Linked DNA regions of Homo sapiens. The protein of the gene in region 2 purifies or fractionates together with the protein of the main gene of each other region. This does not show direct contact. Each region holds a gene or a part of one and is shown on either strand. Other genes may lie near its edges. The genes, in order: TRIO and MYO10.

Region 1 (7,000 bases), 2.5 Mb from region 2:
TAATCTGTGACTGTAATTGAGGCGCCAGAGGTCTATACAAATGTTGGCAAGAATTTTATTTAGATAATTATTCTGTTTAGAGCCAAGAACAGTAAAAGAAAAAAAAAATTAAACTCCATAAATTAATAAAAGAAAAATACATTATTCCATAGGAGGAAATCTAAAGAAAACAGCTTCAGATAACTTAGAAGGCAATGTTTTCTTCTCCCCTTCCTTTTCCCCCTTTATTTCTTGTTTTAGGGGAAAATCGTTGCCCAGGGTAAACTGCTCTTGCAGGACACATTCTTGGTCACAGACCAAGATGCAGGACTTCTGCCTCGCTGCAGAGAGAGGCGCATCTTCCTCTTTGAGCAGATCGTCATATTCAGCGAACCACTTGATAAAAAGAAGGGCTTCTCCATGCCGGGATTCCTGTTTAAGAACAGTATCAAGGTAACGTGTGTCTCTGTGTGATTTCTCTGTGCCAGCGCATGTACCCGTCACACCGATACACTGTTTCCTTTTAATGATGACATACCCTGATGCTTCGTTTAAGTATTTGAGAATTTTCTAGTATATTTCAGAGCCTTGAATTCACCCCATTTCTCTTTTTACTGTCTGTGTTCTTGAGTGGCTGATGTCTTGTACACACCTCTGTGTAACCACAGCCATTCATTCTTACCATGATGAGAACTGGTCATGGGTAGTGTTTATGCACCCCCTTCTCTAGGACCGAGGAAAACTGGTTTAAATTTGATAGCACGGATTTGGGGGATTGCTCTATGATCAGAGAAAAAGTTCACTCGGTGTCTTCTTCTCTTCCTCCACTCACCAAGGAGGTACTGAGCACTCAGCAACAGGCGTGAGGGCTCCAGGAATGGCCCAGCTGGATGCCCTCCCTGCCCTGATGTAGCTTATCCTCTAATAGGAAAGGAAGACAGAGGGACAAAGAAAATAATTGCCAATGGCCCTCAAGTCTGTAAAAGGGACAAACCAAGGGTGAGGTAGAGAAGAGCAGAGGGCAGGCCTGAGGTCCCAGCAGATGACTCCTGGGAGATACATGCCCCCGCCAGGGTCCTCCTGGCTCTGCAGCTGTGCAGACCCTGAGGTCAGAAGGGAGATGTACTTCCCTTTGGTAGGGCCTCCTGCCCTACGCCATCAGGGACAGGGAACTCTCAGACCGTGCACACCTGCGGGCCTCACAGCACACAGGCAGAACATTGCGTCCTCCCCCATCCGACTCTCCGTTCAGGCTTTTGTTGGCTGTCCCCAGCAGCCTCCATTTGCCTAAACCTGGGGTGGGTCTGTCCGTGGGCACAGGTGCCAGGCTGGGGGCCTCTGCCCACCAGCACCTAGGAGGGCTCTGGAGCCAAACAGCTGGAGAAGGAGGCCGCCTCTGCATGAGGCTGGGCTGCGGGCCCTCGCACCTCCCACCACCCGCCTGCCCCTCCAGACTCCGCCTTTTGAGGCCCCTCACCCTGAGGCCATGTCAGGCACAGACCCTCTGGGCTCACCACTACACTTGAGCCTCCCATCCCCTGAACTGTGCGCCCATCCCCTGGACGGCAGCCATCATCTGAACTGTGCACCCATGCCCTGAACTGTGCACCCATACGCTGAACTGCACCCATACGCTGAGCCGCACCCATCCCTTGGACTGCAGCCATCATCTGAACTACACCCATCCCCTGCACTGCACCCATCCCCTGAGAACCACCCATCCCCTGCACTGCACCTATCCCCTGAGAACTGCACTCATCCATCCCGGGCACTGCACTCATCCATCCCCTGCACTGCACCCATCCCCTGAGAACTGCCTACCCATTCTTCTCACAAGTCTTTTGGCAGAAAATCACTCCAGCACTGTAGGAATTTCGTATATATTTTTTACATATTTTTATAAAATTATTTGACATATTTTAATCATGATATCACATACAATTTTATAACATAGGTTTTAGTGATATTTGAGATTTGTTTAATGGTGTCATTTACTCCCTGGGAAGTAAGTAAGGATAAATACTGAGGCATCATAGAGGGGTTTGGGAAACAGGTAATCCCAGACGCATATTTCTAGTTAATTGTTCAGGCTGTTAGTTCAAACTATTAGTTTAACAGCCTTGTATTCCCCATGTACCTGAGTTAAGAGGCATTAAAAAGCTTCAGATGTTTTCTGAGGCAGTAAAAATGGCAGTTCAACTGAAAAGTGCTTGTTTCAGGATTGAGTTAGGATGAACTTCACTTTGCACTTGGCCAGTGGGGATCAATGTGCTTTAATTTTTTGTTGTGGTAAAATACACATAACATAAATGTTCCATCTTTAATTACCTAGCTCCATGGGATTAAGAACATTCATGTTTTGCAGCCATCACCATCATCTGTCTTCACAACTCTTCATCTTGCAGAGCTAAAGCCCTGTACCCATTAAACAGTAACTCCCCACTTCCCCACCCCCAAGCCCCTGGCAACCTCCACTCTACTTCCTATCCCCACATTTGACTACTCTAAGGACTTCCTGTAAGTGGAATCATAACAATAGTTGTATTTTGAGACTGGCATATTTCACTTAACATAACGTCTTCAAGGTTCATCCATGTCGTATTGTGTGTCGGAATTTCTTTCCTCATTAAGGCTGAAAAACTGTCCACATAGCCCACATTTTCTTTGTCCATTCATCGGTCAGTGGACACATGGTTTGCTTCCTTTCCACCTGTTAGCTATTATGAATAATGTTTTTTTTTTTTTAAGGTGAGTTGCCTTTGCCTGGAGGAAAATGTGGAAAATGATCCCTGTAAATTTGCTCTGACATCGAGGACGGGTGACGTGGTAGAGACCTTCATTTTGCATTCATCTAGTCCAAGTGTCCGGCAAACTTGGATCCATGAAATCAACCAAATTTTAGAAAACCAGCGCAATTTTTTAAATGGTAATGTGTGTTCTGTTACTAGATGTGTGCTTTCTTTCCTCGTGTACTCACTTGTATTTATCTTCCCTCTCCCATTCATATCCATAGTAATGACAGAACTTAGCACTCACCACTCTTCAGGCACTGCCTAGATATTGCTTTATTTCATCTTCACAACCACCCTGTGTGGCCAGTACTATTATTATTCCTGCTTTACAGATGAGAAAGCTGGGGCACTGAGCGGCTGAGTAATTTGCTTCGAGTCCCACAAGTTGTTGAGGGCAGAGTCAGGACACAGAGTGGCCATCTGGCTCTTGGTCTGTGCCCCTCGCAGCTACACTGTCCCACACATAACATGTACGAGGGCCCAGTCCTAGGAAGAGGAGTTTGCGAGAACACGAGATGGCATTGGCCAGAGACATTCACGAGGGCCTTGCACACCCACACCTCCTTTCCCCATTAAAAAAATAAGAGATGGGGCCAAGCATGGTGGCTCAAGCCTATAATCCCAGCACTTTGGGAGGCCAAGTTGGGCAGATCACCTGAGGTCAGGAGTTTGAGACCAGCCTGACCAACATGGAGAAACCCTGTCTCTACTAAAAATACAAAAAAATTAGCCGGGCGTGGTGGCGCATGCCTGTAATCCCAGCTACTCAGGAGGCTGAGGCAGGAGAATCACTTGAACCCAGGAGGCGGAGATCGTGGTGAGCTGAGATCGCACCATTGCACTACAGCCTGGGCAACAAGAGTGAAACTCTGTCTCAAAAAAAAAAAAAGAGACGGTTCAGTACTTCCCTGCTTCCGTGACTTGAGGGATTGCAGAGATGCTGCAGAACACAGCGGGCGTGGCCACACTACCCTTCCATTGCCTCTTAATGTATTTGATCTCTTTGCAAATGTTGGCTTCAACACTGGCTTTTAATTTGGTGATCAGCAAAGAACTTTGAGAATTCAGTCCGAAGCTATGTGCCCATGTCATCTGTGTCTTCTGGGTTCTTTGCTTCATGTTCGTATTCACGGTCTGCATCTATGCCTGCTCAAGCTCAATAGGATGTTGTAATGTTCTCTGTCACAAGAAAGCCACCTCTACACCTTGCGTGATGTTCAAGAGCCAGGAACATAGGCACTCAGTGAAAAATCTCAAGCCTCATGGCATTTTTAGCCAAGTGTTATGTGCTGCCTGGGTGTTAACTCCAAGTTTCCATCCTGCTTGCAAGCTGATAATCATTTACATCTGCAGCTAGGGGTGGGCGCTTGAGGATAGGGAGGCACAGTTCCTCAGGTGCGAAGAGGTTCAATGTGGTGTTCTTATGTGGTGCATTGAGTTCCAATCCATAGCTTGGAATTGAGAATGCTCTAAATTTTCATCATTGTCTTTAAAATAGAATGAACTGCCCCCAGATTGCACGCATGGTCTGTGATGTCAGAGTTTACTTGACACCCACTCAGTTGAGTAACTAGTAATACCTATCCCAGAGGATTAAAGGAGATCGCTCATGGGCTGGGAGCTTGGGACCCTTTCACCTGCTTCTTGCACACCCCTTAGTCCTGGAAGAGGCTGTGGCCAGCACAGAGTTTGTAGACTGCCTCTGGCTCCTCAACGCTTGCTCACACATGCCTGGGGCTGGGGCTGGGGGGCTGCATCTGCTTGTCGTATTTTTCAAAGGCTTTAACACTTCAAGAGTTTGTGCATGTTTCCATACATGTTATTTTGGCCTGATTTCTGTGTTTTTCTACAATGAAGATGTAAGAAAACTCAGGCACCCAAGTCAAGAGATGGGACAGCCTCCCGCTCCAGGGGCCTCTAGTAGCTCCTTAGCTTCCCTCAGGGCTGTGTTCAGCCTGCAGAGCAGAGGTGGTCTATGAAACCGCCTCCACGGCAGCCCCAGGGTTTCTTTTTCACCCCAGGACTCTGGTTTAGGAAAGACCTTTGCGGAAGCCAGTTGGTAGCTGGAGGAGTTCTAGTCAAATCTGTTGCCTTGGTCTTCCTGTGGACACTGGCCCTTAGTCCGGGATGTGCTGAGGAATGCGGCCCCTTCCACCCGCTGCACTCAGCCGGCATCCCAATACCTTGGCAAGCAGGGGCCTCTTCTAGCTCTCCTGATGGGTGGGGTTGCTCTGCGCCCCTGCACGGGGTCTGCCCCATGACCCATCCCAGGGTGGGCCCTGTTCCTCCCTCACCCCGCGGCGTGCTCCTTGGCGCCCTGACCCAGTCTCTCCCGCTGTCTTGTCTTACAGCCTTGACATCGCCAATCGAGTACCAGAGGAACCACAGCGGGGGCGGCGGCGGCGGCGGCAGCGGGGGCAGCGGCGGGGGTGGGGGCAGCGGCGGCGGCGGGGCCCCCAGTGGCGGCAGCGGCCACAGTGGCGGCCCCAGCAGCTGCGGCGGCGCCCCCAGCACGAGCAGGAGCCGGCCCTCCCGGATCCCCCAGCCTGTCCGACACCACCCCCCCGTGCTGGTCTCCTCTGCAGCCTCGAGCCAGGCAGAGGCAGACAAGATGTCAGGTACGTCCACCCCCGGGCCCTCCCTGCCTCCCCCTGGCGCGGCCCCCGAGGCCGGCCCCAGCGCGCCCAGCAGGCGGCCCCCCGGCGCGGACGCCGAGGGGTCCGAGCGAGAAGCGGAGCCGATCCCCAAGATGAAGGTGCTGGAGAGCCCCAGGAAAGGCGCCGCGAACGCCTCGGGGTCGAGCCCAGACGCCCCCGCCAAGGACGCGCGCGCTAGCCTGGGCACCCTGCCGCTTGGGAAGCCCCGGGCCGGGGCCGCTTCGCCGCTGAACTCGCCGCTCTCCAGCGCGGTCCCTTCTCTCGGCAAGGAGCCCTTCCCCCCCAGCAGCCCCCTGCAGAAGGGGGGCTCCTTCTGGAGCTCCATCCCCGCCTCCCCCGCCAGCCGACCCGGCTCCTTCACCTTCCCGGGGGACAGCGACTCCCTCCAGCGGCAGACACCCCGCCACGCGGCCCCTGGCAAGGATACTGACCGCATGAGCACGTGCTCCTCGGCCAGCGAGCAGTCCGTGCAGTCCACCCAGAGCAACGGGGTAAGCGCGTCGGGGGGCCCGCGCCCTCCCGCCCCCCTGCCTCTGTCCCGCCAGCTCTAAACGCCACCGCGGCTGTTCTCACTAACTCGGCTGCCCAGCGCTCTCCGCCGCCCGTTGCGGCCTCTACCTGGGACCAGGCTAACCCTCCTGCGGGCCGGCCCACGGCGCTACTAACTACTCCTTGCTTTGTTCGTGTCTTCTAATAAGAGCAAGCCGATCATTAACCTTCTCAACGCAGCGTCTTTTGGTTTCTTCCATTTCCAACCAGCAGAATATCTTCTTGGAACTTTCTTTTTTAACCTCTGCCTTCCTCACGCACCTATTTTTTGGAGGGTTCCTTTTCCCTGCTCTCTACCTCCTGTTTAAATTGAAACCTGTACACTTTAAGCTTTTTGCTCATCGCTTGGTTTTGCTCTTTTATGCCTTAAATTATCTTTGCGGCATTTTTGACTCATCTGCTGGGGAAGACCATTCCCTCAAGAAAACTTCCAACAGCAACTCAAAGCAAACTAAGATGAAAAAATGGGGGGAAAGAATCTGTCCACTGGGAACGCTTTACGTCACCGTGTTGCTCTGGAAGACAGAGACTGCTCTGGGCACCTGGCGAGGCGGCTCTGCAGTGCAGGCTGGGGCCGGTCCCTGCGGCCTGCTGGGCTCTGGCCTCGTTTGGCCCATCACTCATGCTGCCGTCTCAAGCACAAGGGTTGCTGTGGTGGGTTTTCCCTCTGTTTCCTGCTTCCTCACTGTCCTACCCACCTGTTTCCTACAGGGCAGATGGCCTGGCCCGTAACACTTTCCTGAAGGCATGCGTGAGTGAATAGAACTGTTCTAATGAGTGTATGTTTGAACGCTTTATAAATTTTTAAATACATTTCTCTAAAAGGGTCTGTGTCTCTCTTTATATTAAAAAAAAAATCTAGCTTTTGCATGTCTTTCTCTTTCCTCTGGACTTATTAATGCCTTAATTGGTTTGACTTGGTCTTATCCTTTCCTACTATTTTTTGTTATGTATTTTGTTAAACTTTAATTGGGGAAGAAATTAACAAATGGGTCTTGATACATTTATTTACAGTTGAAGTGG
Region 2 (10,214 bases):
CCTGGCCAACATGGTAAAACCCCATCTCTAGTAAAAATACAAAAATTAGCTGGGCGTAGTGGCCCGAGCCTGTAATCCTAGCTACTTGGGAGGCTGAGGCTCGAGAATCGCTTGAACCCAGGAGGTGGAGGTGGTTGCAGTGAGCGGAGATCATGCTGCTGCATTCCAGCCTGGGTGACAGAGTGAGACTCTGTCACAAAAAAAAAAAAAAAAAAAAAAAGAATATTAATGGCCATTGCAGTGGCTCACATCTGTAACCCCAGTGTTTTGGGAGGCCAAGGTGGGAGGATCTCTTGAGGCCAGGAGTTCAAGGCTGCAGTGAGCTATGATTGTGCCACTGTACCCTCTGTCTAAAATGAAAATTCTTTTGTGCTTACTTCGGCAGCACAAATACTAAAATTAAAGCAAGACAGAGAGAAGATTAGCATGGCCCCTGTTCAAGGATGACATACAAATTCATGAAGCAGTTTATATTTAAAAAATATATATGTTGAAAACTTTTCAGGCCAGTCACGGTGGCTCACGCCTGTAATCCCAGCACTCTGGGAGGTCGAGGCGGGTGGATTACCTGAGGTCAGGAGCTTGAGACCAGCCTGGCTAACATGGTGAAACCCTGTCTCTACTAAAAATTCAAAAAATTAGCTGGGCATGGTGGCGGGCACCTGTAGTCCCAGCTGCTCAGCAGTCTGAGGCAGGAGAATCACTTGAACCTAGGAAGCCGAGGTTGCAGTGAGCGGAGATCACGCCATTGCACTCCAGCTTGGGCGACAAGAGTGAAACTCGGTCTCAAGAAAATAAAATAAAATAAATTATTTTTGGCTGGGCGCGGTGGCTTACGCCTGTAATCCCAGCACTTTGGGAGGCGGAGGCGGGCAGATCACCAGGTCAGAAGATGGAGACCATCGTGGCTAACATGGTGAAATCCCGTCTCTACTAAAAAAATACAAAAAAATTAGCTGGGTGTGGTGGCAGGGGCCTGTAGTCCCAGCTACTCCAGAGGCTGAGGCAGGAGAATGGCGTGAACCCGGGAGGCGGAGCTTGCAGTGAGCTGAGATCGCGCCACTGCACTCCAGCCTGGGCAACAGAGCGAGACTCTGTCTCAAGACTCCCAGCCTCCTCAGTAGCTGGGACAACAGGCGCCTGGCTAATTTTTTGTATTTTTAGTAGAGATGGGGTTTCACTGGGTTAGCCAGGATGGTCTCGATCTCCTGACCTCGTGATCCGCCCGACTCGGCCTCCCAAAGTGCTGGGATTACAGGTGTGAGCCACCACGCCCGGCAATTATTTTCATTTTTAATTATTATCAATACATAGTGTATATATTTATGGGGTACATGTAATGTGTGGATACAGGCATACAATGTGTAATAATTGCATTATTTGTAATTGTGATTAGGGTATTCATCGCCTCAAGAATTTATCATTTCTTTGTGTTATGAACATTACAATTCCACCCTTTTAATTAATTAAAAATATGCAATAAATTATTGTTGCTGTAGTCACCCTGTTGTGCTATCAAATACTAGTTCTTCATTCATCCTATTAAGAAAAAGTTGTATTTGCTGTTATCTGATGCCTAACAAAAAAAATAAGTACATAAATACGTAAAATAATTTTAAGATAGGAACAACAGAATATTAAACCAAGCGTGAGGAGCTTAGGGCTCTATACAATTAACTATATGGGTTGCACACCTATGAAGCTTGCCCTGAAGCTAAGAAGTTAAAGAATTTTTAAAGAGGGGAATGTCAAGGAGAGTGAAATTGGAAAACAGGCTGTTGAATTTGATGATTTGAGGTTACAGAGACTTTCAAGAGAGTGGGGTGGGGGACAAAAATCAGATCATGAGGGGTTTAAGGGTTGATTGCTTGGAGGATGAAGTACAGCAGTGAGAAGTTGGGCATTTGAAGAGAGATGGTCCAGTAGTTCAGAGAGCAATTGGGTTAACGAGCAGCTGTTTTCAAATAGAGCCGACACGATCTTGTTTATTGGCTTGGATACTGAGTGGGAAAGGCTGAAGATGCAAGCAAGAGGAATAAGTGAGGACACAAGGTTTGGAAGTGGCAAACATGTTGTGATTAACAATAATGGTAGAGAGATGATAAACTTTGCAGTCAGTCTCTGAGCCACCCTGGAGTAATGGAAGAGAGAGGGTCATAAAGACACAAAAACATCAAGAGAGAAAGCGAGATGTCAAACATAGCTCCGAGCGGGCTTAATCATTAGGCAGCTTTTCAGGGTTTCAGGGATTTTTGTACTTTTTCTTTATTATACGCAACAGGACCAGCCCCAAACATGAAAACTGATTAATTTGTGAAACTAACACTCCATGATTTTTGTAGGCTATCAGCTGTAGGAGGCATTCTTGCTGTAGTTTGAAGTGATGGGGATTTAGTTAGAATTAACTGTCCATCACATGCTCTCTAATGAGGTGAATGACATCCTTGCCCTAGCTCATCTTGTAGAGAAATACAACCGCTGGCAGAAATGAGTTCTTCCAGTGTCTTCTCCCCATTTTAGTTCTATGTTTATTCTTCTGTACTTACTTCTATTACAATGTGAAACATTTCAGGTATTTTCTCCCAAATTTATTCTATTGAAACCACCTACAATTGTTTTCAGTTTCAGCAGAAAAAAATTCCCTTGAGGATTTCTGAATGCTAAGGTATGAGAAATAAAAGAAACACTTGTGTAAAAATTTAAATCACATTAAAAAAATTCCCTTTTGTTTGAGAAGGTAAAAACATTTGATGTTTTAAACATCCAAGAGGGTAAGTGAGCCCAAAGGATGGACTGCTGTTTAGTTAAGCATGAAAGGACTTTAGAATTGTCAGTTATTAACTTCTAATTTGTGTGAAAGAAACTTTGAGAACTTTCCCTTTCTATAACTAGTAATTAAGCCATTATTCTAACAGGGGCAATTAAGGGGTGAGTGTTTAATAAAAAAAAAAGATAATGGAAAAGACTCTACGCCCCAAGACACATCAAGACAAGGAATGGCAGCAGCAGCAACAACAAAAGGAACTCAGTTTGAATTCACAAAGGAAATGAGACAACCCGTTTCAACTAAAAACGAACAAACTGTTGGTGGAGAACAAAAACAGAAGATTGTTATTACTTAACTCACAAATATACATATGCAACTCTCTCTTTCAGTGGGGAAATGATCCAATCAGTATTAAAATTTTGTTGATTGTAGATTAATGTATGCCACTAAATAAGATAACTTAACTTGAGCTTTTGGGGGTGTTTTATTTTGAAAATGTCATACTCTGTTAGCCTGGTTTATTTGAAAGACAGGTAGGACAGAGAGTTGAGACAGACCTTTGCCTCATGGAAACACACTCATCCTTCTATTATTACCATTCTTGTGCCTCTGTCGCTTCTCAGAGGGCAGGGTTTAATAGATTTGGTCTAAACTGCTTTGTCCAGTGGTTAGCACAACTCTCTCAGAGGAAGCACTCAAATTTTAAGAAATGGTAATAAGACTAGATATTCTTAGAAATCTATTGATTTAAAATGCTTCCCAGTCTCTGTCCAATCCTGTCAAAGCCCTTATAAATTTAACACGCTGCTTTTTAACAACTGATTCAACCCCAGATACTTGAGGGTTAGATATCTTATTTAGAACATGCATTTTGCTGTTCAGCAAGTAAGAGTTTCGCTGCCACAGCTTATCTTACACCTTTTTGAGAATATGGGGATATATAGAAAAGCTGATGAATTCTGATAAAGTGGCGATTCCCAAGCTCTGAACTGGTTATCGGGGTGCTTATTAAAATGCAAATTCTTTCAATATAATCCACAGGTAAAGAAATAAAAAATGCAAATTCTTAGGAAATCAATTTGCCACAGAGATTTGGAGTCAGTTTTTTTTTCTTTTTAGCAACTGATAAGGTGATCTAGGGATCAACATTGATAAAACATTGATGTAAGTTTTTTTTTTTAACTTTCTTACCCTGTTAACTGATGATGTAAGCTTTTTGAAGAAATAAAATGATTCAGTAAAATCTAAACTTTATATATTGGATCTGGCTCACCATTCTTTACGTGAGTCAAATTGGGGGCAATTATTAACGATATCTTCATAATTGGCAGGAAAATCACCTTTAAAAGATTAGTAGACTTTAAAAAAACAGTTTTAGGCTTACATAAAAATTGGCCAGAAAGTACAGAGAGTGTCCATAGACCCCTCCCAGCCCCTCACCCTCACTTGCCCCTATTATTAACATGTTGCATTAGTGTGGTACATTTGTTATAACTGATGAGCCGATATGGAAAGTGACTTTTGAAATGACATGGCGAGGTTGCCCAACGTATCAGTGGCTGGGCTGATGCTGGGAACCACGTCACACCCACACACTCACTTCAACAATCTCCCTGGTAATTTCTCTGGCAGAGATGTTGTGTGCAGATTAATACCATAATGACTGTAATTGTTCTGCTCCAGTATCTGAACACCAGTGGTTGCAGGACCCATTTGACTAAGCACTGGGATTGTTGGTATTTATCCTGACTCCATCTTCACTTTCCTTGCGACCTTGGACACAAGCTTTAATGGCTCAGCGCCTTAAGCGTGTAAACCTGTGAAACAGAACAACATTGCACAATATCATTAACTAATTTACACCTTGACTCTTTCTAAAGGGAAGTGAGGTGGGAGCAATGATATTAATGGTGAAGAACTGGACTGGGATAAGTTACAAACATGCTTGACTTTCCCCATAAGGATTACAGAAGGATGTTTCATTCATTCATTCATGCTGTGAGACAGCCTGGGGATACTCATCTTAAAGCACAGTCCTTCCCCAACAGTCTTAGGAATAAATCCTAGAGTGGGCATCTAGCCCAGTGGTTACGGGGAGCTTGGGTGGGGTGAGTGGAGTAGCATCTTTGGGAAGGGTTCCTTCCCCTGGAAGGTGTGACTTTGTGAGCTGAGTTTTAAAGGTTGAGTAGCAGTTGGCAAATTCCCTGGAGAGAGCATCTCAAATCTTTTGTGCTGAAGAACCAGCCATTTTTGTTCCCAGTCGGCCAGGTACCAATACACTGCGGCGCCAGGTGTGACTCACCACGTGAGTCTGACAACACCCAAACTGGTTTATACTCGGTTCAAAGAGTCCACTGATCATGTGCTTGGATGTCGTGGCATTATTAAATTGCTACAAACGTTTACTCTTAATTTCTCTACTTGTTACAAGCTTTCGTTCAGCACAGGACCAGGTAGCACCTGAGGGGCACCTGGAAAGCAGATTGTTCCAGCCTGCGTTCTAACAAGGTTCCCAGGTGACCCTCGCACAGCATAAAGTTAAAAGAACTGCCCTAGGGGAAACGGGACTCAGTGCCAGGTGGGTTTGATCATTCGTCCATCTCAGTGCCATCTGCCATCTCTGCTTCCTTGAGGTCTAGAAAAGGGTTACATTTTTAAAGGTGATATTGGCCACGTCCCCTTCCAGTTTCAAAACTACATTTCCCCGCTGTTACGCAAACGTCTTAAGCAAACCCGACTGCAGGACAGAAAGTCAACACGGGAATGCAGCTTCCAGAAATTCTGATTAGCCTCCGTCTTCCGCTTTGATCTGGCCCCGCAGCCCCGGCAGCTCCGCTGACCGCGCTTCCTTCCCGAGATTGCTAGTCTACCGGGCTGCATTAATGAGATCCGTGTTGAGCCGGTTCCCGGGTCTGCTAAACATGAAAGGCACAGAAGCCCCCAGTCCCTTCTCCTCCCCTCTAAGTGATTGTTTAGTCTCTCTCTGCAGAGGGAAGAGTTAAATCCCCTCCCCACGCCTACGTGGGAAGACCTGGGGAAACACGCGGCCCCCTCCCGGGTCCGCTAACGAGCCTGCGGCTGCTTCGGGCTTAGAGTGGGCGGGGCCTGGTCGGGAAGGGGGCGGGGCGCTCCGCCCGGGCGGGGCCAGACGGTGTGGTTGGCGGAGGGCCAAGCTCCTGGGGGCGGGGCCGCGAGCGGGAGGGCGGGGCCGGCTGCGGGAGGGCGGGGCCGGCTGCGGGAGGGCGGGGCGAGGTCGCTGGGCTGTAGTCCCGCGGGCGAGAGCTGGCTGAGCCGCGGCGCGGGACTGCTCACCTCCAAGCGCTCGCGCGGGGATCGCGGCTCCTGCTCACTTTGCGGCCCGCTGTCCTCCTGCCCGCCCCGAGGGCCCCCGGCCGGAGCGCAGAGGGAGGGGGCCGCGCTCGCCAGCACCCCGCCGCCTTCCCCCGCCTGGGGGAAGAATGTGCCACCAGCTGTTCTCCGCTTGCGAGCGCTGCGCCCAGTAGTGAGGAACTTGGAGGAAGAAGAGACAAAGGCTGCCGTCGGGACGGGCGAGTTAGGGACTTGGGTTTGGGCGAACAAAAGGTGAGAAGGACAAGAAGGGACCGGGCGATGGCAGCAGGGGAGCCCCGCGGGCGCGCGTCCTCGGGAGTGGCGCCGTGACACGCATGGTTTCCCCGGACCCGCGGCGGCGCTGACTTCCGCGAGTCGGAGCGGCACTCGGCGAGTCCGGGACTGCGCTGGAACAATGGATAACTTCTTCACCGAGGTAAGTGCGCTCCCAGTCCGACCTGGCCTCCGGAGCCCAGGGAGAGAGGCGTCTGCCCACCACGCCGCGCGCCCTGGGTACTTTTTCCTAAGCCCTGGAAGGCGCAACTTTCTGGGAGTCTCCTGAAATCACCCCCCATCCCCCCGCGGAGTCTCTGATGAGTAAGCCCGGGCAGGTTTTGTTTCGTCCTGTCCCGCGCTCGCATTTTGCTCCGGGAGGTAGCGAAGGTGCGTTTCCGTTTGCGTGGGTGGCTGGCTCTCGGGGCGCCCTGGGACACCCGCGCCAGGTGAGGCGGCGCGCGCCGGGGCGCGGGCGGGGCGATCCGCCCGCTCGACTGCCCGGGTGCAGGAAGCCCAATAAAATGTTCAGCGGGGACCTGCCTTTCTCCAAGAAAGGTCTTGTCTGGTATTTCCTTTGCAAAACGTGCGGGCTTCCTGTGCAGGGGTTCAAACACTTCCAGAGGAGACGGCTTAATGAAGTGTGAGAAGGAGAGGCAAGGGTTTAATCGGTTACTTTGCTCGCCGAGAAGTGCTCTTTTAAGGCTTGGGATAACTCCAGACCCTGGGATCAAATGATCATGTATTTGTGTAGAGTGTCCATGCAGATTTTGAATTCGAATGTAAAGAAAATTCGTTTAGGGCAAACAGTGGCTATTTTAATAGATGAAACGGATGCCCTCTTTAGGGTCGTTGAGGGTGGGACACTGAAACTTAACTTGAGAACCCTTTTTCCCCCTTTGGGATCGAGACTTACTGTGGTTTCTTGGCTCCCTTTCCTTTCTTGGTTGTGTTTATTTAATAAATTCTGTTTAAGTTTGAGGTTTGAAGTGGCTCAAAGTAAACTTAGTTGACTTGAGAGAGTCTGATGTGATTTTCGTTGAAAGCCAGGGAATGTTTTCTGAGTGCAGAACCGCTTTGGAGTCTTCCAGCAAATCAGATTGATGAGGGCTTGCCTCTGTGTTAGCCGACTTGGTTTATCTGATTTAATTGGATATAATATTTCAAGTCATTCTGCTTTCTGCATGCTCACTGACTGTATTCTCAGACAGCTATTCATACTGGCCAAAGTGATAAATGCATTCTTGTTTAGTAGTCATATCTAGTTTTTAAAAGTGGTGTTTCAGATGTGATACCCACATTCATTGTGGAAGGAAGACTAGAAAGGAATTATCCATCAATACATATTTTTCCTTTTCTTAAAAAAAGTGAAATATATATAATTGTGAGACGCTCGCATTTTCTAGTCCATAGACTTTTGTTTTCATGCTTGTCGAAAGGCACCAGAACTTTCTGCAAGAGTTGCACGTTGTCCAGTGGTAAAGGACCCTCGGGCTACAGTGAGTTCCGGTGTTTAATTGCTTGCATCTGTAAGAAAACGGAGGCCCTGCCCCTAGGGCAATGATTCTTAACTTTGTTGTTTTTGTGTTCTGGGTCCCTTAGAAAATCTGATGAAAATATAGAAATTTGTATTCAGTTTGCACGGATCTCACTCCTCCTGTAGCCTGTCTGAGCACCACAGGGGTCCGTGGCTCCCCCTTGGGGAGAACTCTGCCCCCTAGTGCAAGTGGGGGGAACATCAGGATAACGCGCTACAGCGTCCTGATCTCCTGTTACCCGGTGAGACTTTGACTTTTCAAAGTACTCTTTTCATCTTGCACTGGATACCTTAGTTCAGTGTAAGGGGCCTGGTTGTTGGATTTTATTTCTGTGATCAATATTATTTTGCAGTTGGCCATTAGTGATCTTCTACTTTCTCCTCTTCATTTTGTAGACAGAATCTTAACCCAAAGATATGAGTAAGTCCCTTGCCCAGCTTTGAAGAGCTTGTTCACGAATCCAGAGCCTTTTTCCTTTGCTGCTGGTGACTTTGGTATTTCTGGGAACTTTTCGCTTATTTTAAGGTTATACTTTTAATCTTGTGATGTATGTGTATTACAATATTAACTTCTAATCAGCCGTGAAAGTTCCACCCTTAAATCTAATCACTTTGAGTGGGAAGGAAGCAGGGCCAGTCAGAGAGGTTAAATAGTGAGGTATTAATTGTAGACATACTCTTAACATAGATCCCAGCTCCCCTTTCTCTCTCTCATGTCTTGTAATGGAGCATCCTTTTGTTAAATTGTCCAGTGAAGAAAATGCTGTAATTAATGTCCTGTTAGAATAGAAACAGCGAGTGTGGAAGTGATATATTCCCCAAGGACAGCTAAATTGTTTGGCCTCCTTATCACTAAGTAGAATTCTGTCTTTGCTAACTTTTCCCATTGTGGCTTAGGGGTAAATGACTTGTTGCTTGTTGGACAACAGTTTAAAGCCAGTGCTAACAATTGGGGAAAAATTACTGAATGAGATGTTGCCTGTTTAGCTTTGTGTATGAATGGCCAAATAATAAGGAAATGGGAGCTGCTTGTGATTCGCAACTGCTATTTCTAGCTAGACCAGGGTTTCTCAAACCTGGTACCATTGCTGAGTAATTCTTTGTTGTTGGAGGCCGTCCTGTGTGTTGTAGGAGGTTAAACGCATCCCTGGACTCTACTCAGTAATTGTTAACCCTATCCCCCAAGTTGTGACAACCCGAAAGGTCTGCAGACATTGCTGAATGACAGGGGAGCAAAATCACTCCCAGTTGAGATCCACTGAGCTAGACCTGTGAAGCAGTTGTTTGGCGGTATTAATTCCTATTTGTGTTGCAGGCACAGCCTTGTCTGCGCTTCCCTGTTTTAAATAGGATTTGGCCGGGTGCGGTGGCTCAAGCCTGTAATCCCAGCACTTTGGGAGGCTGAGGTGGGAGGACTGCTTGAGCCCAGGAGTTCAAGACCAGCCGGGGCAACATGGTGAAACCTCATCTCTACAAAACTTAGCTGAGTGTGGTGGTATGCACCTGTAGTTCCAGCCATTCTGGAGGCTGAGGTGAGCCCAGGAGGTCCAGGCTGCAGTGAACCATGATTGCACCGCTGCGCTCCAGAGCAACAGACCCTGTGTCACAAAATAGATAGACTCTTACTGCCTGCTAGATTGATTGATTAATTAGATAGATAGTGTCTTACTGCGCGCCAGGGGGAAGCTTGCAAAGCTTGTGCCAGTCAGCTGACAGCTGCTGACTTCAAAATGTTCTCCAGGATTAGAGAAACTGAGCATGCCACATTCCTCAGTTTCAGTTTCTTCATGGCCTTCATTAGAATTTTATGGCTCCCCTCGAGTTAATTGTGTGTATGCTTTGGGGAAGCTTGTTTTTTCAGCATTTCTAAGTAAGTTGTTAAGTTTACTTCAGCCAGAAACTAAGTTTAGATGTGTCTGTAACCAGAAGCAATAATAATAAAAAAAGCAAACAGAAAAGGCTCAACCAGGAAAGGGGCAAGGCTACTGTGCAAACTTGTGTTGATGTGCTGAAGTGGACACTGTTTTCATGTCTTCAGGGCCAAGTACAGTGCCTGGAATATAGTAGGGGCCAGTAAGTACCAAATGAAATTGACCTTTCTGTTTCCCTGTTAGGCAGAGGTGTGATGTGTCTGTTCAAATACAAGATCTCGGAGGATTATTAGTGAGACTAATCAAACACCTTGATTTTCAGAATAAATATGTAAAATGTACACAAGTAAGATACTCACAAATACAAATACAGAAAGCAGGTATTAATGTTTAAGGGATAAATTGTTAGTGGAAAATATTCCAGACATACCTGTTT

Evidence for each region.
Region 1: the proteins of MYO10 (region 2) and TRIO purify together in Homo sapiens (affinity purification with mass spectrometry; 2 studies listed by BioGRID and IntAct, with this or other methods). This does not show direct contact.

Annotation. Positions count from the first base shown.
Region 1 is NC_000005.10:14,482,342-14,489,341, forward strand, and holds part of TRIO (triple functional domain protein), read left to right. Parts: intron 1-240; coding exon 241-432; intron 433-2,727; coding exon 2,728-2,905; intron 2,906-5,122; coding exon 5,123-5,919; intron 5,920-7,000. UniProt on the Homo sapiens protein: Guanine nucleotide exchange factor (GEF) for RHOA and RAC1 GTPases. Involved in coordinating actin remodeling, which is necessary for cell migration and growth. Plays a key role in the regulation of neurite outgrowth and lamellipodia formation.
Region 2 is NC_000005.10:16,932,107-16,942,320, reverse strand, and holds the start of MYO10 (unconventional myosin-X), read left to right. Parts: upstream 1-6,032; 5' UTR 6,033-6,512; coding exon 6,513-6,533; intron 6,534-10,214. UniProt on the Homo sapiens protein: Myosins are actin-based motor molecules with ATPase activity. Unconventional myosins serve in intracellular movements. MYO10 binds to actin filaments and actin bundles and functions as a plus end-directed motor.